Regions from separate parts of the Homo sapiens genome. Here regions 1, 3 and 4 are each linked to region 2. Evidence: fine-mapped expression QTL. A gene starts in region 2. Each other region holds a variant in brackets. All regions are shown on one strand. Distances are between the middles of the regions.

Evidence for each region. PIP is the estimated chance that this variant, and not a neighbour inherited with it, causes the effect.
Region 1: its variant is fine-mapped to the expression of ADAT1 in cerebral cortex (GTEx, PIP 0.90).
Region 3: its variant is fine-mapped to the expression of ADAT1 in esophagus muscle (GTEx, PIP 0.97).
Region 4: its variant is fine-mapped to the expression of ADAT1 in transverse colon (GTEx, PIP 0.99). The same link has a PIP of 0.9 or more in breast and coronary artery.

Annotation. Positions count from the first base shown.
Region 1 is chr16:75,546,789-75,552,122 of GRCh38, reverse strand. All of the region lies in intron 2 of TMEM231 (transmembrane protein 231), which reads left to right. Among named protein-coding and RNA genes, the nearest start is that of TMEM231, 6.8 kb to the left of the region's middle. RefSeq lists enhancers at 1,775-1,834, 1,875-1,944. The variant C/T (reference allele first, on the strand shown) is at 2,144.
Region 2 is chr16:75,620,677-75,626,010 of GRCh38, reverse strand. ADAT1 (adenosine deaminase tRNA specific 1) reads left to right here and starts at 2,730. Exons shown (of 10, transcript NM_001324445.2): 1 at 2,730-3,608; 2 at 5,191-5,334. The coding sequence starts at 5,212. RefSeq lists enhancers at 2,417-2,936, 2,816-3,055, 2,937-3,456, 3,457-3,976, 3,977-4,497 and a silencer at 4,566-4,860.
Region 3 is chr16:75,597,634-75,602,926 of GRCh38, reverse strand. ADAT1 (adenosine deaminase tRNA specific 1) reads left to right here. Exons shown (of 10, transcript NM_001324445.2): 10 at 2,579-5,293. The coding sequence ends at 2,711. Among named protein-coding and RNA genes, the nearest start is that of ADAT1, 23 kb to the left of the region's middle. The variant T/C (reference allele first, on the strand shown) is at 3,060.
Region 4 is chr16:75,645,785-75,650,784 of GRCh38, reverse strand. KARS1 (lysyl-tRNA synthetase 1) reads left to right here and starts at 3,120. Exons shown (of 14, transcript NM_005548.3): 1 at 3,120-3,207. The coding sequence starts at 3,146. It overlaps TERF2IP (TERF2 interacting protein), which reads right to left and starts at 3,012. Exons shown (of 3, transcript NM_018975.4): 1 at 2,233-3,012. The coding sequence starts at 2,902. RefSeq lists enhancers at 477-556, 1,135-2,090, 1,888-2,157, 2,091-3,048, 3,088-3,267 and a silencer at 2,468-2,587. The variant G/C (reference allele first, on the strand shown) is at 2,940.

The DNA of each region.
Region 1 (5,334 bases), 74 kb after region 2:
ATGTTTGATGGCACAAAGGACAAAGTTGCATAGAAAAGTATGGGTTGTTGACTGAGTTAAAGTGTTACTCAAAAGGATGAGGATGTAAAGAAGTTTTAGGAATCCCTGAATCAATTTATTTTGCCTATATTTTTCTTTCTTTTCTTTTCTTTTTTTTTTTTGAGATGAAGTCTCACTCTGTTGCCCAGGCTGGAGTGCAGTGGCGCAATCTCTTCTCACTGCAACCTCCGCCTCCTGGGTTCAAGCGATTCTCCTGCCTCAGCCTCATGAGTAGCTGGGATTACAGGCAGGCACCACCACGGCCGGCTGATTTTTGTATTTTTAGTAGAGACGGGATTTCATCATGTTGGTCAGGCTGGTCTCGAACTCCTGACCTCAGGTGATCCACCCACCTCGGCTTCCCAAAGTGCTGGGATTACAGGCGTGAGCCACTGCCCCGACCTATTTTGCTTATATTTTTCTAAGTAAATAAACATATCTGTGTAAATATGTCTAAATCTAAAAGCTCTTTTAGTAACTTTTTAAAAAGTAAGTGATTAGAAAAGTGTCATAGTTTAATTGGAAATGTTTTTCTTTTATCAGTGGTATATAAAATAATGGTTCATTTTATAAGTAATGGTATCTTAGATTGAAATACAAGGCTGAGCACTGTGGCTCATGCCTATAATCTCAGCACTTTGGGAGGCTAGCCCCTTGAGCTCAGGAGTTCCAGACCGCCTAGGCAACATAGTGAGGCCCTACTATAAAAAATTTAAAAATTAGCCAGGGGTAGTGGTGAATGCCTATAGTCCCAGCTACTCAGGAGGCTGAGGTGGGAGGATCACTTGAGCCTGAGAGGTCAAGGCTGCAATGAGCTGTGATCGTGCCACTGCACTCTAGCCTTTTTTGACCCTGTATCAAGAAAAAAAGAAATAGAAAAAAAAAGAAATACAGGTAGAAAGGTGGAAAGGAACCACGAAGTGGCAGTTTCTGCTTTGCTAGAGACCCACAACTGGTGCCAAAGAGTATTTTTAGCTTAAAAAGAAAGGAGCACCCGGTGATGACAAGTATATGGTGAAATAGACACTGGTATAAACTAGGAAATTAACCTTTAATAAAAGAATATGGGCCGGGCGCAGTGGCTCACGCCTGTAATCCCAGCACTTTGGGAGGCCGAGGCGGATGGATCACCTGAGGTAGGGAGTTCTAGACCAGCCTGGCCAACATGGTGAAACCCCGTCTCTACTAAAAACACAAAAATTAGCCGGGTGTGATGGCAGGTTCCTGTAATCCCAGCTGTTTGGGAGGCTGAGGCACGAGAATTGCTTGAACCCGGGAGGCGGAGATTGCAGTGAGCTGAGATTGCACCACCCATACTCCAACCTGGGCAACAGAGCCAGACTGCATCTCAAAAAAAAAAAAAAAAGAATACGACTTAAATGAATGAAATGTACGCAAACAAAACAGAAACCAAACAAAATTCCAACAAACCGTCAGATGCTGGGAATTCCTGACGGGGAAAAAAGTCACACATCAGGATACTCTGGAAACAATGGCACTTGAATTTCTGGCAATTCCTGCAGTCAGGTGGTGTGCTGGTTATGAGGTATTGTCTCAGCTCCAAACCCACCCTCCTACGCTCAGCTTCCAGGTTCCTGCTGAGATGCTGGAAACCACCTTCTTCCCCTGCAGCTTCCTGTTAGGTTCTGCCAGTAGGAGGCATGATGAGCCTTGTTCTGGGAGTGCAGAAAAAAAGAAATGAAACCAGTCACCACTGCCAGGGTGAAGAACCACTGTGGATGCCACAAACAGGGACAACCAGCAAACAGGAAGGAGCAGGACGCCTCTCCTACCGGCTTCAAGGTTCCCTCTAGTGCATGCTTCCTCCAAGCTCAGAGGTCCTGGCCCCATCTGGGCCGCGGTCCCTTCTTGAAGTCTGAGGCTCAGCTCTTCGAGGCCTCTTCCCTGAACCTCTAAGTTCTATCAGTCCCACCCGCTTCCCCTTCTTCTCTAGTCCTAGGTGTGGGAAATGTTCCCTGCAGCTACTATCTCTGTGTTGCTGGGATATCCCCTTTTTACGTCTTCAGTCCTCTAATACCTATGGGACTATTTATTCCCTATGTTAAATTCCCTCTGGCCAGGTGCGGTGGCTCATGCCTGTAAT[C/T]CCAGCACTTTGGGAGGCTGAGGCGGGCAGATCACCCAAGGTCAGGAGTTTGAGAATAGCCTGGCCAACACGGTGAAACCCCATCTCTACTAAAAATGCAAAAATCAGCTGGGCGTAGTGGCGCACACCTGTAATCCCAGCTAGTCAGGAAGCTGAGGCAGGAGAATCACTCGAACCTGGGAGGTGGAGGTTGCGGTGAGTGGCGATTGTGCCACTGCACTCCAGCCTGGGCAACAGAGTAAGACTTCGTCTCAAAAAAAAAACAAAAAAATTCCCTCTGACTCTGCTCAGTACATGCGTGTGGATTTCATGTGTATCTCTAAAGGGTTATCCTCCTTTAACCATGAGAAATCTTTTCAGTTAGAGTTCTTATGAGCTATTATAGAAGAGCCCTGAATCAGGAGTCAGCAAACCAAGATCCTTGTCCCACAAGGTCCTAGTCCCAATTCTGTCACTGGGTTTCATAACCTCACCCTCAATTTATCTATCCATATACAGGGCATGAGAGTACCCACATCTCTCCTGGGATATGCAGAGGAATCACGTGGGACAATGAATGGATATAAAAATTGTTCCAAAGCCTGTATATACGTTGTAGATATAAGGTGGTGGTGTGATATGTGAATTCTCTTGGCTAAGTACCAGTTGGAGGTTAGATAGCGACCTAGAATTTGTGTTAAAGAAGTAGTAGCCTTTGAATGCCTGCCTTTGTTAGCTATTGCACATATGTTAAACTTACTTTCAACTAAATGGAATTAAATAATTGATTTATTCAGTGGTCCAAGTGATAACAGAGGAGCACAGCCAAACTTCGCCAGCCCCAGGAGGGTGAGAGTCCAGCTTGGTGACAGGTCATTTGTGGGAGACACATCCTTTCCATCGAAACTTCTCTCCCCCCTCTCTCCACCCTGCTCTCCTTCTCACCCACTCTGCCAGATGCATTGATCCCACGGGTACCCAGAGCACATGTACCTGATTAGCCTGGATCCCTCCTCTCTGAGATGTTCCTGCACCCCATCACTTCACTTCCTTCAGGACTCCAACAAGTTGGGTCATCCTGAATATTTAAAAATTTCTGTTAAATTCTTTTTGGGTTTTTTTGTTGTTTGTTTGAGATAGAGTCTTGCTCTGTCACCAGGCTGGAGTGCAGAGGCACGATCTCGGCTCACTGCAACCTCCACCTTCTGGGTTCAAGCGATTCTCCTGCCTCAGCCTCCCTAGTAGCTGGGATTACAGGTGCACGCCACCATGCCTAGCTAATTTTTGTATTTTTAATAGAGGCAGGGTATCGCCATGTTGCCCAGGCTGCTCTCGAACTCCTGAGCCCAAGCAATCCACCCACCTGGGCCTCCCAAAGTGCTGGGATTATAGGCATAAGCCACCACGCCTGGCCAATTTCTGTTAAATTTTACCTTCATTATTCTCTAATTTTAGCCTGCTTCATTTCTGTCAGCGGCACTTGTCACTGTTTTCTACATTGTCCATCGGGAATGTATGCCCCATTAGGATGGGGACTTTGTCTATTTTGTTTACCATTATAGTCTCATTATTTGAAATAGTGCCTGGCGTGTTTCCAAAAAGTACGTAACAGATCAATGAGTGAATTTAACAAGTAGACACTATTGATGGTGTTGTGCCAAATCTGTCCCCCGCGAACTTGGAATGGAAGGATGTGCACAGGCAAGTATACAGACGTAGATGCCTGGTGCTGCTGTTTTTCAGGAAGATTTGTCCAACCTGCTGTCTTCATTTGGAATTTTTAAAATAATTTTAGACATTTTGGTCCTAAAAAGAGGACCAGATTTGAAGTCACCTGATCTCAAATCCTGTCTTCACCATTACTTGCTGTACCTCTGATAAATGCCCTAATCTCACTCATCCTTGATTTTGTCATCTGTGTAATGGGAAAATACCTGTTCTGCCTGCCTGGGGCTTTACATTTATTGTAAAGATCAAAGGAAATGAGCTTTTCCCCCTCCCACAGTGTGTTGGAGTCTGGATTCTTCTGGCAGTTGTCTCCTGGCCACTATCCTCTGTTGCAAGTTGAGAAATGTGCTCTTTTCTTCCTGTCCAACCCTAAAGATCTAGAAGGTGTGGATCCATCACAGAGAGTTACATAAGATTTTCTACCCAGATCCCAATTGAAGAAAATCCACAGGAGACAAGGCAGGCTCTTTTATTTATTTTTTATTTTATTTTTTTGAGATGGAGTCTCGCTCTGTCACCAGGCTGGAGTGCAGTGGCAAGATCTTGGCTCACTGCAACCTCCAACTCCCTGGTTCAAGCGATTCTCCTGCCTCAGCCTCCTGAGTAGCTGGGATTACAGGCACGTGCCACCACTCCCAGCTAATTTTTGTATTTTTAGTAGAGACGGGGTTTCACCATGTTGGCCAGGATGGTCTCGATCTTCTGACCTCATGATCCGCAAGGCAGGCTCTTTTCATCCTACCTATAATGACTAGTCCATCATTGCCTCAGTAACTTGATCATCAGCCCTGGTAGCAGATATCCCTCCCCGAAGCTGATGAAACAGGGCAGAGAGGAAGTATCCAAGAGAAAAGGGAGGGAGGTTTCTCTAAAACAAGACCTAAGAGAAGGAACATTATTGTCTAGAAAGAAAGAAATAATTGAAAGTTTCTGAAAATTGAGATTTCTTCATTTCAAATGACCTTATTATTAGCCTGAAAAAGCACACACACAAAAAATCTCTTCCTTACGTAATAGTAATGGTGGGAATCAAAATGAATCCATAGATGGTGGATCCAGATGGGAATGCTGCTACACGATAGTAGAATTGTTCTGGGAATCCACAGTGGGAAAGGATCAGTTGTAGCAAAAAGATCCAGAGTTGTGCAGAGGGACCATGTCAGCAGTGATCACTTTTCAGTAACCGTGCTTTCCTGATCATCATTTTAGCATCACTGTTTGGCAAGACTGTGGATGGTAGGAGTGGATACCAGTTTTTTTTCACTGCCTACATATGCTTCATAAGCTGTATTTTGTCTTTTTTCCTCTACAGACCTCTGTCTTCTTTCCTTTCATGCCCGTAATTTATCAAATAGATATGGTTTTAATACTTTGCTGATTTGACATAGCTTCCTTTTTCATTTCATTGATTGCTACTAAAAGATGCACAAGGCTTTCAGGTCCTCACACGAATGATGAGATAAGATCCAACATCAAGAATCTGA
Region 2 (5,334 bases):
TTGCTGGGGTGAGCAGAAACAGGCGTGGTCTCAAACTTCATCAAGCATCTACACTTGTAAAGAAAATAGATAGTAATAAATCATCCTCCAAAATTGTATAAAATGGCAGCTCAGGTAAATGGTTTGAAGGAGAGGTCCACGGGGTGTTGAGAAGCTATAATGGACATGGACCTAGTTAGAGGAGGTTTCTCTGAGGACATGAGATCTGAAGGGAAGAAGGCTTTCCGTGGTATGGCAACAAGTGCAAAAGCCCTGTGGTAGGAAGGGACATGGAGACCAGTGAGAGTATAGAAGCCCAAAGAAATATGGCACCAGGTGAGGCAGGAAGGGGCTGGCCATGCAGGACTGTGAGCACTACTATGGGATTTTTGTCTGTATTTTAAGAGTACTGGGAAGCCAGTCGGGCATGGTGGCTCACGCCTGTAATCCCAGCACTTTGGGAGGTCAAGGCAGGCGGATCACTTGAGGTCTGGAGTTTGAGACCAGACTGACCAACAGGGTGAAACCCCGTCTCTACTAAAAATACAAAAATCAGCCGGGTGTTGTGGCATGTGCCTGTAATCCCAGCTACTGGGGAGGCTGAGGTAGAATTGCTTGCCCCTGGGAGGCGGAGGTTGCAGTGAGCCGAGATTGTGCCACTGCGTTACAGCCTGGGTAGGAGAGTGAGACTCCATCTCAAAAAAAAAAAAAGTACCGAGAAGGCATTCACTGAAGTATTATTTAAGCAGTAAATGTGTAGTAGTCACAAATCTGACACCAGATTTGCAGTTTGAAAAGATTAGTCTTGCTGCTCTGTGGAAAATGAATTGGAGTTAAGCAAGAAAAGGTGGAAATTCAGAGATGAGTGTAGCAATCCAAGAGGAATACGATAGTGGCTTTTACTAGCGTATTGGCATGCAAGTGGAGAGAAATGGATGGATTCAAGAGATAGGAAGTAAGATCAACAGGACTTGGTAATGGATTGCACTAAGGGGATTAAGGGAAGGGAGATAACAAGGAACATGACTCACTTTTTAGTTACGCAACTAGATTGCTAGTAATACCAATCCCTGAGATAAAGAACCCTAGAAGAAGGTCTTTGATACCCCTTACCCCCACTGGAATATTTCTTAAAAGACAGAAGAGGCAGTCACTTGCAGATTAAAGATATTGGAGAGGAATGAGGAGCAAAGTCTTTGGCCTTGGAGGAGGGCCATGTCCCATTTCCTTTGAACTAGAGAGAAGGATGGGGTTGAGCAAGTTGCATAAATTTTTGAGGGGTAACAAAGAAAAATGAATTCTTTCATTTTTAGTAATAGAGCATTCAGTTACTGGGTGACAAAGGCCCCTGAAGTATCCAGGCAGCTATATTACTTATTCCCGGCAATCCAAAGGTTTTTAGACCTGTTCTGCCCACTACACTGTAGTAGTACTGTACTACAGTAGCCAGTAGCCACATGTGACTATCCAGCATCTGAAATGTGGCTGATCCAAATTGGGATGTATTCTAAGTGTAACACACACCAGATTTCTTAAACTTCGCATTAAAAACAGAACAGAACATAAGTATTTTTTAAAATATTGAGACTCGGCAGCCAGGTGCGGTGGCTCACGCCTGTAATCCAGCACTTTGGGAGGCCGAGGCGGGCAGATCACGAGGTCAGGAGATCGAGACCATCCTGGCTAACATGGTGAAACCCCGTATCTACTAAAAATACAAAAATTAGCCTGACGTGGTGGCAGGCACCTGTAGTCCCAGCTACTCGCGAGGCTGAGGCAGGAGAATGGCGTGAACCTGGGAGGCGGAGCTTGCAGTGAGCAGAGATTGCGCCACTGCACTCCAGCCTGGGTGACAGAGCGAGACTCCGTCTCAAAAAAAAAAAAAAAAAAAAAAAAAATATATATATATATATATATGAGACAGACAGACCGACCCCGGGCATCGTGACTCACGCCTGTAATCCCAGCACTCTGGGAGGTTGAGGCGGGCGGATCACTTGAGGTCAGGAGTTCGAGACCAGCCTGGTAACATGGCGAAACCCCGTCTCTACTAAAAATAACAAAAATGAGCCGGGTGTGATGGCGGGCGCCTGTAATCCCAGCTACTTGGGAGGCTGAGGCAGGAGAATCGCTTGAAGCCAGGAGACGGAGGTTGCAGTGCGCCGAAATTGCGCCGCTTCCAGCCTGGGCGACAAAGCGAGACTCCATCTCAAAAAATTTTTTGATTATATGTTGAAATAATACTATTTGGGATGTATGGGTTAAATAAAATATATATGATTGTTTCTATTTTGACTTTTAATGAGGCTACTGGAAATTTTTAAATTACGTATATGGTTCGAATTATATATCTATTGGACAGTGATGTTACAGATAGAAATACAGCATAGTCAGGAGAATCGCTTGAACCGGGAGGCGAAGGTTGCAGTGAGCCGAGATCGCGCCTCTACACTCCAGCCTGAGCAACAGAGCAAGACTCCGTCTCAAAAAAAAAAAAGAAAAAGAAAAAAATTCAGCCGAGTGCTGCAAGATACGTCATTCTAGTTGAAGGAATATCTAAGCCAACAAGCGGCTCCCATCATCCGGTTTCACGCCTCTCTAAGACGCAGCCAGGGCTGCGGGACTTGAAGCGCGGGAATCTCGGCCCTGGCACCGACTCCCCGGAAAAACTACAGGGCCCGGCATGCACTGCGCGCCTCTGGGAGCGGGAGCCGAAAGGAACCGGCGCTTTGTGACGTCACGTCCGCCTTACCGGCGGATTAAGCTCGCTTTCTTCTAGGCGCGTTTCCTGAAGGTGGGAGGGGAGCGTCCGCGAGGCGCTGGGGCGACGGGGCAGGTTTATCCGGGCTAACTTTGCCGAGTCTGTTTTTGAGGGAAGAGGTTGTGAGGATCGTATCTTCCGGGACGCGTTTCACGTGGGAAGGCGCTCCACGCCTGGAACTGTCAGCAGCCGGCGCCTGAAGAGCTCCTGGCGCGGGGCCTCTGGCCTGGCAGCCGCAGGACCCAATGGATCAGGCGCTCACGCTGTTCTCACTGCATGGCTTCAGTGCCTTGCCTGGCACCTCCTATCCTGTAACTGGCCGACTCGGGGTCCCACCCAGGCTTCTCCAGCGGCCGGGAAGGGGCTCTGCTTCCGGAAGTGTTTAGGAAGGGAGCCAGCGTAAACCAGAGTCCCTTCCTCCAAGCATCGCTGAAGCCTTTTCTCCCCTGGCAGCCGACTTCCTTTTCTTTGGAAAGGACGTCAGTTTTTTTAGCTTGTTGAAACTGTTCAGAGATGCGGTCTTGTGGGCAAATAAATGCCTGTTTAGCTGAGCTGTTATTTTCAGCTAAGAAGTTCTTCAAGTTTTCAAGATCTAGGAGGGGGTGTAGGCTCGAATTATAATGGACCCAGTGTAGCAAAACATTTATTCATTTAAACAATTGTGCATGCTCATTCAGACGCACTACCTGAGTGAGATGATGCCGTTCTGGGCTGCTTCATCTTAAAGAGAGTCACTGTTTCTTCTGGCAACTTCTACCTGCCTTGCCTATCGAGGTTTGTGAATTGCACCTCTGGTTTAATTTCAGGTCGATGGCCAGGTGGTCTTCATAAACTATACTGCCTTGTGATGCCTCCCTAGAAATGAGAGGTGAGTCCCTTCCAAACGAGGATTCTAGGATCTCATGCTTTCTTTTCTTGACAAGGCTTGCCCTGGCCCTCTGACTTTCAAGTCACAGGGTCTCACTTCCTGCAGATTTTTGTTTTAAATCACTGTGGTCTGATTTACCAGTAGCATTCACTACAGTAGCGAGCCTGCACGTTGCGCTGCAGGGGATTCATAACAATACCATCTTTCAAAAGCTGCATGCACTGGAGCTCAGGAAAGCCTTTTTTGTTTTTTTGAGAGGGAGTCTCGCTCTGTCACCCAGCCTGGAGTGCAGTGGCACAATCTCGGCTCATTGCGACCTCCGCCTCCCGGGTTCAAGCGATTCTCCTGCCTCAGCCTCCCGAGTAGCTGGGACTACAGGCACGCGCCATCACGCCCGGCTAATTTTTTTGTATTTTCAGTAGAGACAGGGTTTCACCACGTTGGCCAGGCTGGCCTCGAACTCCTGACCTCAGGTGAGCCACCGCGCCCGGCCTTCAGTTTGGTTTTACAGTGCTTAGCTATGTCTATCACAAGCTCATCTTCTACTGGGAAGCTTTTTGTATAATTGAGTCCAAATGAGATCAGGATGTGCCTAGTGAGCATTGATAGGGCCAAGAGTGAGAGATTTCCCTGCAAAGTATCCTAGGGATCTGCTTGATGGTTTTTTAATTCATGGCTTTCTATGCCCATTACAGCCCTCCCCCTTTCACCCCCACCACCAGGTAGCTCAAGGCAAATTAACCAGGAAAATCATCAAATGTTATTTTTTGTAATAGTAATCACAGTTGACCTTAATTATGCTCAACATAGTAGCAATTGCTTTTTATAAGTATTACTTATTTAACCCTCACAGTAACCCTAAGTATTATTTAATCTTCACAATAATCTAAATAGGTTAGATACTATTGTTATCACTATTTTGACAGATGAGGAAACAGACCCAGCAAGGTTAAGTAGTCTATTCAGCATCACAGTTAATTTGTGGCAAAGCCAAAATTAGAACCCAGAAAGGGTGAATCCAAAGTCCACACCCTTAAGTAGAGCTCTATGAGAACACGTAACTGCTGAGAAACATTTCAGTGGGGATTTACTAGAGGGCGGTAGAGAAACACTCTGCTGTAGGGGAAAGGAGAAAAATAAAATGCCTGGAAAAAGAAGACAGATAAGAACATCTGTCCAGAAAGATAAACCTTATACAGTGAGGGTCTGCCCAAAGCAAGTGAGTCTGCAACCCTTTACATGCCGTTTCCAGTGAAAACTGGAGTAGTGAGGACATTTCCTTCTCGTGTCCTTTAATGTTGAGTAGAGGATGCAGACTCCTTAGAAATGTATCAGATATATAACATTAAGAAAAACTTGAAACAATAATTTTGGGGATTGGTAGAATTTGGGGTTTCTTTGATCTTTCATTAAAGATGAAAAGGGGGCAGGGAGATAGTAGAAGAAAATGATCCATAGAGTTCCAGATAGGGAAACCTCGGTCTGCTCCATTTGAAAGACTCGAAGCATGGATATGAGAGGCTGTAGCATCGTGCACTGGTTCTCCTTTCCGTACTTCTGATGGTTGTGGTTTTTGATCAAGGTCTCAATACCAGCTCAGACCATGTGGACCGCGGATGAGATTGCTCAGCTATGCTATGAACACTATGGGATCAGGCTGCCCAAGAAGGGGAAGCCTGAGCCAAACCATGAGTGGACATTATTGGCAGCGGTGGTGAAGATACAA
Region 3 (5,293 bases), 23 kb after region 2:
ATACGTGCATGATCTGAGATGCAGAGGATGGGTAGTTTGGTGGTATAGAGTTATAAAAAACTAAGGATAGAACTGGGGCTTGGCCATTCCAGGCCCTCCTTTGATTCCACCTCTAGATGGAGATCACTGTGGAAATGGGAGTGCTCTAAGAGCAATATATTCTGTTACAAGTGTTACTCCTCTTTTCCTTTTGAACTTGCAGCTCCATGACTTAAATTGCTCTTCAAACAAAAATTCAAAGAACTTTAAAACCACTCTTGGGAACAGGTAGATGGGTGCAGTGACATTCTGACAGTGACCACCTAGATTTAGGTGAAGTTTCACAGGTGAAGGACACAGTTCCCACTAAACTGTCTTCATTTCAAACAACTACCACAAGTTAAGGAAAGCCCCAAACCACCCATACTTCTGACCAACTGGCTACAAATTTGAGTGTCTCCACTCCCCTTCACGTTCAGTCATTCACTAGAACATCTCTCAGAACTCAGAAAAGCACTATAGTTGCCATTAAAGTTTTATTATGAAGGCTACAGATCAGTACTAGCCAAAAGGAGAGAGATATAGGGTAAGATATGGGAGGGTCGCAAAGGCAGAGCTTCCATGTCCTCAGGACATATCACCTTCCCAGCACATTGCTGCGCATCACCAACTAGGAATCTCACTCAGACATCAGTGTCCAAAGTTTTTGTTGGAGTTTCATTAACTATTATGACTGATTGAATTATTGGCCACATGATGTGATTGAACTTAATCTCCAACCTCCTCCTCTCCCAAGAGTTCAAACTGATATCACGTGTCTCAGAGCCCTAATTCTCTACATGGTTGGTCTTTCTGGCATGGCCGGTATCATCCTGAAACTATCTCGGGGGCCCACCATGAGTCACCTGGTTAAACAGAAACTCACGTGTGATCAGCGAGATCTACCATGCAGGACAAAGACACTTGCAGAAACTCCAAAGCTTAGAGGCTCCCGGGAACTGGTGACAAAGACCAAGTGAATCCTTCATTATATGACAGTGGGGAAACTAAGGAGTAGCTAGAAACTTCTATATGAAGAGGCATCGCCATCATGCATACTGAAGTGATGGATCTGTGGTCAGTTGGCTTCTTTCTTGGGTTTCCATATATTCTATATGTCAAATCTGAATTTAGGTGAGGAGATACTTCTAAGGCAGAGTTTTGCTCCTGTTAACCAGGCTGGAGTGCAGTGGCACAATTTCAGCTCACTGCAGCCTCCGCCTCCCAGGTTCAAGTGATTTTCCTGCCTCAGTCTCCAGAGTAGCTAGGATTACAGGCACCCGCCACCACGCCCGGCTAATTTTTGGTATAGTTAGTAGGGACGGGGTTTCACCATATTGACCAGGCTGGTCTTGAACTACTGACCTCGGGCGATCCACCTGCCTCAGCCTCCCAAAGTGCCAGGATTACAGGCGTGAGCCACCGCCTGGCATGTATGTATGTTTGTTTGTTTGTTTGTTTTTGAGACAGGGTAGCTGAGACAATTAAGGGAAGTGTTGCATGTGACCAAGAGCCTGGTTTGTAGTAGGGTTTTGATAACTAGTAGTTACTGTATTTTTTTTTTTTTGAGACAGTGTCTTGCTCTGTCGCCCAGTCTGTGTAGTACAGTGGCACAATCGTAGCTTACAGGAACCTCCGCTTCCTGGGTTCAAGTGATTCTCCTGCCTCAGCCTCCCAGGTAGCTGGGACTACAGGTGCCTGCCACCACGCCCGGCTAATTTTGTATTTTTAGTAGAGATGGGGTTTCACCATGTTGGCCAGGCTGGTCTCAAACTCCTGACCTCAGGTGATCCGCCTGCTTCGGCCTCCCAAAGTGCTGGGGTTACAGGTGTGAGCCACCATGCCTGGCCTAGAAAACTTTTAAACCAAAAAAGTAGACAGTTGTTTTTATTTTATCTGATTCCACTAGGACCATAGAAACCTAGAATTCTGTTCATTCTTAACTGTTTTAATTCATGTTGCTTTCTCGTGAATTCCCTACAAAGGAGACAGAGTTGCTCTAGGAAAGTGTCAAAAGTCAAAATAAAAATGTAAAGATAAATCTCTAAATTTAATATTTTATTTGGGATACAAGAAATTCAAGACATACAGACTGGGTGGTCTTCAATATGTCTGAAGAACAAAGGGAAGGTTAGAGGTTTTATTTTTCAAAAAAGAAATGTAACATATTGTTGAAGAAGGTTCATTGACATGAGTAAAGTGAGGAGCTGCCAAGTGATGGCACTGGGTAAAACTATTCTTAAAGTCTGCAGCAGGTTGGTTCAGTAGCTGTTAGATAAAACTGGCAGGCAGTTTTAGCAGCCAGGCTTGCAGAGAATGCATTCTTGGAGCAATGTTATGCGCCCTGAGTGTTTTTTACCCCTGGCTTCTCAACTCTGTTTCAGTTGAGTATGACAAGAATAACGTAGTTTGTATGATCAACTTTCACAAAAGCATACTGAACTCCTTCTCTACCTAAGTCTCATTACAAGTCTGTCCAGTTGCTTGCTCAGGTGTCTGGTGGCCCCTGGGGTGGGCTATTCAATGAGAACCTGTGTATTTGGTGGCCTGTGTGCATTAGGGTGCAGAAGCTGGATACCTACCAGGAGTACAAGGAGGCTGCGTCCTCTTACCAGGAAGCCTGGAGCACACTCCGGAAGCAGGTGTTTGGATCCTGGATCAGAAACCCACCGGATTATCACCAGTTCAAGTGAGAAGGAAATGTTTGCTCTGGTAGCAGGACCCTTCATCCTGAACTGCCTTCCTCCACGCAGGACAAGTCTTAGCTTTTTTGGTAGTTAAATCAGGGAACATTCTTTCTGAGCTTTGCATCTCTGTTGTGTAATACAGATGGAATCTGGAACTTAGAGCAAGCTATACTTGATTGAAGTAGCTCTCTGCTAAAATGGCATCTCACTAATGACCTCACTATCTGACTTCCATTGTGTTTTATTGCTTCTCTAAAATATGAAATCAGAGTTTGGAACATGATGCTTTGAAAGTACTCTGCAGCAGCTCTGTTTTATGGGTTCCTACATTGATTCAGCAAATATTTATTGAGC[T/C]GAAATGATGTTTGACGCTCTGCAAGTTTTACAGCTTTGCCTAGCATAGCGAATATATATTTTGTATTCCCAGCCTTTCTTTCTTCAGGGAGCCATTCTTTTCCCATTCTTCAGTGATCCTGCTCTGTGCCTCAGACTTGGCTGAAGCTAACCTTACTCCCTGGCTCTAGGAATAGCCTGTGAGCCAGCCCTGGACTGCCCTGGACTTGTTCTCAGAGGTATCAGGAAAGGCTTTCTGTTTTGATCTGGAGCTGTAAGGGTCACATAATCATGGGACTGCCGGTGGCCATCTTTTCCTACTACCTAGAGAAAGCCAGCAAAGAATGAAGGCAACAAAGGAAACAGCCAAGAGAATCAAAGATCTAGTAACACTGTTTAGATGTCTCAATTATGTGAGACAGATTCCTGTTGTTATTTTGATTAAGCCTGTTTGTGTTGGTTTTCTGACTTACAATTGAAAGAGTTCTGTCCAAAAAGCCAAAAGGTGGCCAGGCTTGGTGGCTCAGGCCTGTAATCCCAGCACTTTGGGAAGCCCAGGCAGGCAGATCACTTGAGGTCAGGAGTTCAAGACCAGCCTGGCCAACCTGGTGAAACCCTGTCTCTACTAAAAATGCAAAAACTAGCCGGGCATGGTGGCGCACACCTGTAATCCTAGCTACTCGGGAGGCTGAGGCAGGAGAATTGCTTGAACCCAGGAGGCGGAGGTAGTGGTGAGCAAAGATCGTACCGCTGCACTCCAGCCTGGGTGATAGAGCAAGACCCTATCTCAAAAAAAAAAAAAAAAAAAAAAAAAGAAGCCAAAAGGCCCTGCAGCAAATCAGCAATAGACCCAGCAGCCAATCCTGTTTTAACATCGAATGTTTAACACTCAACTTCAGACCTTGAATGATTGACTGAAAATGGAAGCTCCCATGTTGGGGTTACTCAAGGTCCTTATTGGTTCTTCAGCATTTTGTGGCTATAAATATTTTTAAATAACAGTTGTATTGAGATATAATTCACAGACCATAAAATTCACCCAACTAAAGTATACATTTTAAAAGTTTTTAGGCCGGGCACGGTGGCTTACGCCTGTAATTCCAACACTTTGGGAGGCTGAGGCAGGCAGATCACCTGAGGTCAGGAGTTCGAGACCAGTCTGGCCAACATGATGAAACCCCGTCTCTGCTAAAAATACAAAAATTAGCCGGGCATGGTGGTGCACGCCTGTAGTCCCAGCTACTTGGGAGGCTGAGGCAGGAGAATCACTTGAACCTGGGAGGCGGAGGTTGCAGTGAGTCAAGATCATGCCATTGCACTCCAGCCTGGGTGACAGAGTGAGATCCTGTCTCAAAAAAAAAAAAAAAAAATTTTTTTAGTATATCCACAGAGTTGTGCAACCATCAATTTTAGAACATTTTCATCACAAATTTTGTGCCTGTAATAGTTTCCTAGAGCTGTTTCTTAACGAAGTACCACAAGCTGGGTGGCTTAAGACAACAGAAATGTATTCCTGGCCGGGTGCAGTGGCTCACGCCTGTAATCCCAACACTTTAGGAGGCCGAGGTGGGCAGATCACGACGTCAGGAGATCAAGACCATCCTGGCCAACATGGTGAAGCCCCTTTCTACTAAAAATACAAAAATTAGCCAGGTGTATTGGCGCACGCCTATAGTCCCAACTACTCAGGAGGCTGAGGCAGAAGAATCTCTCAAACCCAGGAGGTGGAGGTTGCAGTGAGCCAGGATCGTGCCACTGCACTCTAGCCTGGGTGACAGAGCAAGACTCCATCTCAAAAAATAAGAAGAAAAGACTGTATCCCCTTTCAGTTCTGGAGGCTAGAAGTCCAAACAGGTTGTTGGTGGGGCTTCTGCTTCCTCTAAAAGCTTTAGGGCAGGGGCCCCCAGCCCCAGAGCCACAGACCATTACTTGTCTGTGGCCTGTCAGGAACAAGGTCACACAGCAGGAGATAAGTAACAGGTGAGCACTTGAAGTTTCATCTGTATTTATGGCTGCCCCCCATCGCTCACATTTCTGCCGTAGCTCCTCCTCCTGTCATACCAGCAGTGGCATTAGATTCTCATAGGAGCGTGAATCCTATTGTGAACTGTGCATGCAAGGGATCTAGGTTGCACACTCCTTATGAGAATATAATGCCTGATGATCTGTCAGTGTCTTCCATAACCCCCATATGGGACTGTCTAGTTGCAGGAAAACAAGCTCAGGGCTCCTACTGATTCTACCTTATGGTGAGT
Region 4 (5,000 bases), 25 kb before region 2:
CGGGCAGATCCCTTGAGCCCAGGAGTTCGAGACCAGCCTGGGCAACACGGCCAAATCCTGTCTCTACAAAAAAATACAAAAATTAGCTAGGTATGGTGACGAGTGCCTGTAGTCCCAGCTACTTGGAAAGCTGAGGTGGGAGGATCCACTGAGCCTGGGAAGTCAAGGCTGCAGTGAGCCGTGATCGCACTACCGCACTCCAGCCTGTGTGACAGAGCAAGACCCCATCTCAAGATATATAATAAAATTAAAATAAAATAAAAATAAAAGCAAGGCCATACATGATGACATACTTCACCCATACACATAGCCCTAACCTCATCTGCTATAATTAATTCTCCCTCCTACTCCATTAACAGCCACTCTGTTCTCTTTGTGGCTCCAAACACACCAGCCATACTCCCACCTAAGGGCGATTGCCCTGGCTTCTTCCTCTGCCTGAACACTCTTCCCCAGATATCCACCTGGGTTGCTCTTTCACTTCCTTCGGTCTCTGCTTAAACATCAGCTTATGAGAATGACCTTCTCTTATCATCCTATAGGAAAAACCTCCTCCCCAACCCTTACACTCTGAATTATTTTTCTCTATAGCCCTTACCACTCCCCAGCTAGCATGTTATAAGCTCCAGGACCACAGGGACTTTTATTTATTGTTATATTCCAGCAGGACCACAATGTCTGGCACTCAAATTTCTGCTGAATGAATGAAGCTGAAATGTCACTTTTACCAAAACAAAATTCCTACTAAGCATACTGAACAGGAGAAAAAGATTTTACTCCCCAGACTTCAAGTGTTAAATGGAGTAGTCATACAGGCAAAGAAAAGGTGGGAGGATTACGGAGGGGGAGGAGAAGCAGCATGCCTCTTTAAACAAAAGGGTCTATCGGTTTAAGTTATCAATGCCAGGTACGTCACCAAGTACATCTTAACAGACTCGTTCTGTATCCTAGACATACTGAACCCCAATTTTCAATTCAACTGCATTAAAAACTCACTTCACCTAAGCAAGACCAGGAAGAGACCTTCCAACTGCCGAGAACCTTCTTAAGTCCATAGGCATTCAGTTACGCCAGAGCATTAAAGTAAGTCTGGTACGCCTTTATACTGAATCTACCTGAACATAACAGCAATCTTTTTTAAAAAGGAGTCTGTGGAATATCTCTTAAAAGAAACACAAGAAGCCAGTTAGCCCGTGGGTAGCTGGTGGACAGGAAGGACGAGATAATTTTTTTTTTTTTTTGAGATGGAGTCTTGCTCTGTCACCCACGCTGGAGAGCAGTGGCGCAGTCTCGGCTCACTGCAACCTCCGCCCCCCGGGTTCAAGCAATTCTCCTGCCTCAGCCTCCTGAGTAGCTGGGACTACAGGAACTCTCCGCCACGGCCGGCTAATTTTTGTATTTTTAGTAGGGGCGGCATTTCGCCATGTTGGTCAGGCTCGTCTCGATCTCCTTACCTCAGGTGATCCGCCCGCCTCGGCCTCCCAAAGTGCTGGGATTACAAGCTTGAGCCGCCGCGCCCGGCCAAGAGAGAATTTTCTATATACTTTTTGTAACTTTTGAATATAGAACCATGTCAATATTCTAGTCAATGGTAAAGTAAATTAAAACTAGACCAAGAAGCTGGGTGTGATGGCTCACGCCTGTAATCCCAACACTTTGGGACACCGAGACGGGAGGATCGCTTGAGCCCAAGAGTTCGAGACCTGTCAGGGCAACACAACGAGACCCCCATCTCTACAACAATTTTTTTTTTAATTTAGCGGGACGTGGTGGCGCGGGAGTGTAGTTCCAGCTACTTGGGAGGCTGAAGCCGGAGATTCGCTTGAGCCCAGGAGGTCCAGGATGCAGTAGGTCGTGATCGCGCGGCTGCATCACAGCCTGGGCGACGGAGCGAGCCCCCACTCAAAAATTAAAAAATAAAAACGACGAGAGGCCAGACGTGGTGGCTCACTCCTGTAATCCCAACACTTTGGGTGGCCGAGGCAGGAGGATCGCTTGAGCTCAGGAGTTCAGACCAGCTTAGGTAACAGAGACCCATCGCAAAAAAAGAACAATAATAAACAACAAGGGAGCGAGAAGGCAAGAAAATGGTGCAAATTTACCCGGATGTCAACAGGGGGCGGGGCCAAGCGCTGCTACCGAAGATGCCAAGATGGACGCCAGGCAGCCAGGAGAAAGATCCCAACCCCACCCGCGCAGATATCCGCGAGGCCCCGCGCTCAGCCTCCTCACCCCCGCTATCCGCGGCCTCCGGGTCCTCCTCCGCCTTCCGCTTGAGCTTCTGGGAGGAGGGGCTCACCGGCGCGTCCCCCAGCAGGTACTTATGCTCCTGGCCCCGCAGGTGCTTGAGGTAGCGGTCCTTCAGGGACTGCCACGAGTGCTGCGTGAGCGAGCTCTTCTCCATCGCTTTCCACAAGGCGTTACCGGTGACGGAGCTGGGCGAGCGGGCATTTTCCTTCACGTAGGTAAGGATGGCTACGTCGTCCGCATCCGTGAAGGCGATCCGCCCGGCGTGCCGCTGCGGCTCCGGCTCCGCGGCGCCCTCGGCCAGGGCCCCGGGCTTTGCTTCCGAGCCGGTGTCCGCCGCCGAGGCGGGGCCCAGCCGATAGGCCTCCAGCTCCAGCCTCTCGTTGCGCTCCACGCAGTCCAGGATGTACTGCGTGGAGATGAAATCACCCGAGGCCTCGGCCAGCGCCTCCCCGGGCTGGGCCAGCAGCACGGCCCCGGGCTCCTGCACTCGGCACACGGTGCCGCCGCCGTGCAGGATGAGCGTCGACAGCCGACGCTTGGCCGGGCTGGGCCGCACGTAGAAGGACATGGAGCTGCCGTCGTCCCTCACGAACAGAGTCGAGGAATGGGTGGGCCCGTTGGGGTCTTTGCCCAAATCCATCGCCTCCGCCATGTCTGACGCCGAGCACTACTAGAAGAGCTACCCCCTC[G/C]CGAGCGCCTGGCACACAGAGCTCAACTGACTGAGCTGTCACCGCAGACGCCTCTGCCGCGAAGCGCAGCACTGGGCCTGCGCAGCAGCAGCCGCGGCGCATCGAGAGTGCCCGCCCCCTCTCCCCCGGAAGAGGTGGGGCTTCGCACCTTGACCTGGAAATTAACGTACTATCCTCCTTACTTTTGGGTCGGGCCCTCCGGGAAGATGGCGGCCGTGCAGGCGGCCGAGGTGAAAGTGGATGGCAGCGAGCCGAAACTGAGCAAGAAGTGAGTGTCGCTGCGAGTCTTTAAAGCCTTTGCGGTAGGAGAGTCTGGGCTGGGAAGCGCCGCGAGGTTCCCACCAAGGCTGCTGTGCCGGGGCCTTCTTGCCGGCTCTCGTGGGTACGCACATGCTGAGACGTGGTGGCTGCGCCCTGCAGACCACGTACCCCGGGATACCCCGGGCACGCCGGCTCCCCGTTCCCAGCTGGCACCGGCGGGATGCTCCCTATCATACTCCTAGAGTTAAGAGACTGTGGAGGAGGAACTAGGACGAGAACTAAGAGTTATCAGAAAAGAAAAGCGAAACTTCCTGCTTAGCTTCATCCTCCTTTCTGAGAAATGCATTCTTTTGTTGAGCCACTCAGTAAACGTGGAAGTTGGAGAAATGTTAAATACCCTAGCTTTTCAGAAAGACCTTCAAAATTTTCTGGGCCTCACTAAGGTCATTCTGAACGTTATGTATTAAAAGGGATCAGTTCTAAAACTGTCATGCATCTACCCGTATGGGTTATTCAGTAGATACCTGTGAGTATTAAGTGATCAACGTCTAACAGTAGAGACCATCTTAATTCAGCCTGATATCTTTGTTAACCACTCCCAAATCCCTGGAGTATGTAGGTTAACATAGATAAGTCAGGATTAGCCACCCTTTAACTGGCTGTCTTATATTCTCATTAGCGTTCCCCATTTGAACCACAGAACACAGGTAATTGAGTGTTTTATCATTGCTAGGAAGATGGTACATAGTACCATTCCAGAGGCATACGAGAGGGCTTAATCCCCGTGGCGCGCACTTGTTATCCCAGCTACTCGGGAGACTGAGGCAGGAGAATCGCTTTAACCCAGGAGGCGGAGGTTGCAGTGTGCTGAAGTCGTGCCACTGCACTCCAGCCTGGGAGACTTGAGGTAGTGGTCCTTCAGGGACTGCCAGAAGTGCTGCGTGAGCGAGCCCTTCTCCATCGCTTTCCCCAAGGAGTTACTGAGACGGAGCCAGACCCTGAATGAAAAAGAAAAGAGAAATGATGTTTCTTTTTTTTTTTTTTTAAGATGGAGTCTCGCTCTGTCGCCAGGCTGGAGTGCAGTGGCGCGATCTCAGCTCACTGCAACCTTCGCTGCCAGGGTTCAAGCGATTCTCCTGCCTCAGCCTCCCGAGTAGCTGGGATTACAGGCGTGTGCCACCATGGCTGGCCAATTTTTGTATTTTTAGTAGAGACAGGGTTTCACCATGTTGGGCAGGATGGTCTCAATCTCGTTACCTTGTGATCCGCCCACCTTGGCCTCCCAAAGTGCTGGGATGACAGGCGTGAGCCTGAGCCACCACCCCTGGCCTGATGTTTCCTTTTGTGTCCCTGGCTTTGTGCTTCAAATATCTTAGAAAAAGTATAAGAGAAATTGTCGAAGTTTATAGTTGGGTAGGACCTTAATATATTGTCCTTTATTAGAGCAATCCGATGGACTTCCATAAAAGTTTGGAACCTGGTCTTTGGACTGCTACCTTAGAGAAAATTGACTTGACTTTATTAAGTCAAATTTAATTGAATGTGGTATATCTGTGATATACGATCCTAAAGTTTAGTTCATTCTTTCAAACCACCTATGATAATCAATTACATTGAATTGAACTTTAGGACTGTATATCACAGGTGAAAGCACGGTTTCCAGTTCAGAGTGTGTTTTTAGGTAAACGGAAAAAACTGGTTAATTCCTCTTTACTGACTTTTTTTTTTTTTTTTTTTTTTTGGAGGCAGAGTCGTTGTTGCCCCGGCTGGATTGCAGCGGTGCGATTTCAGCCCACGGCA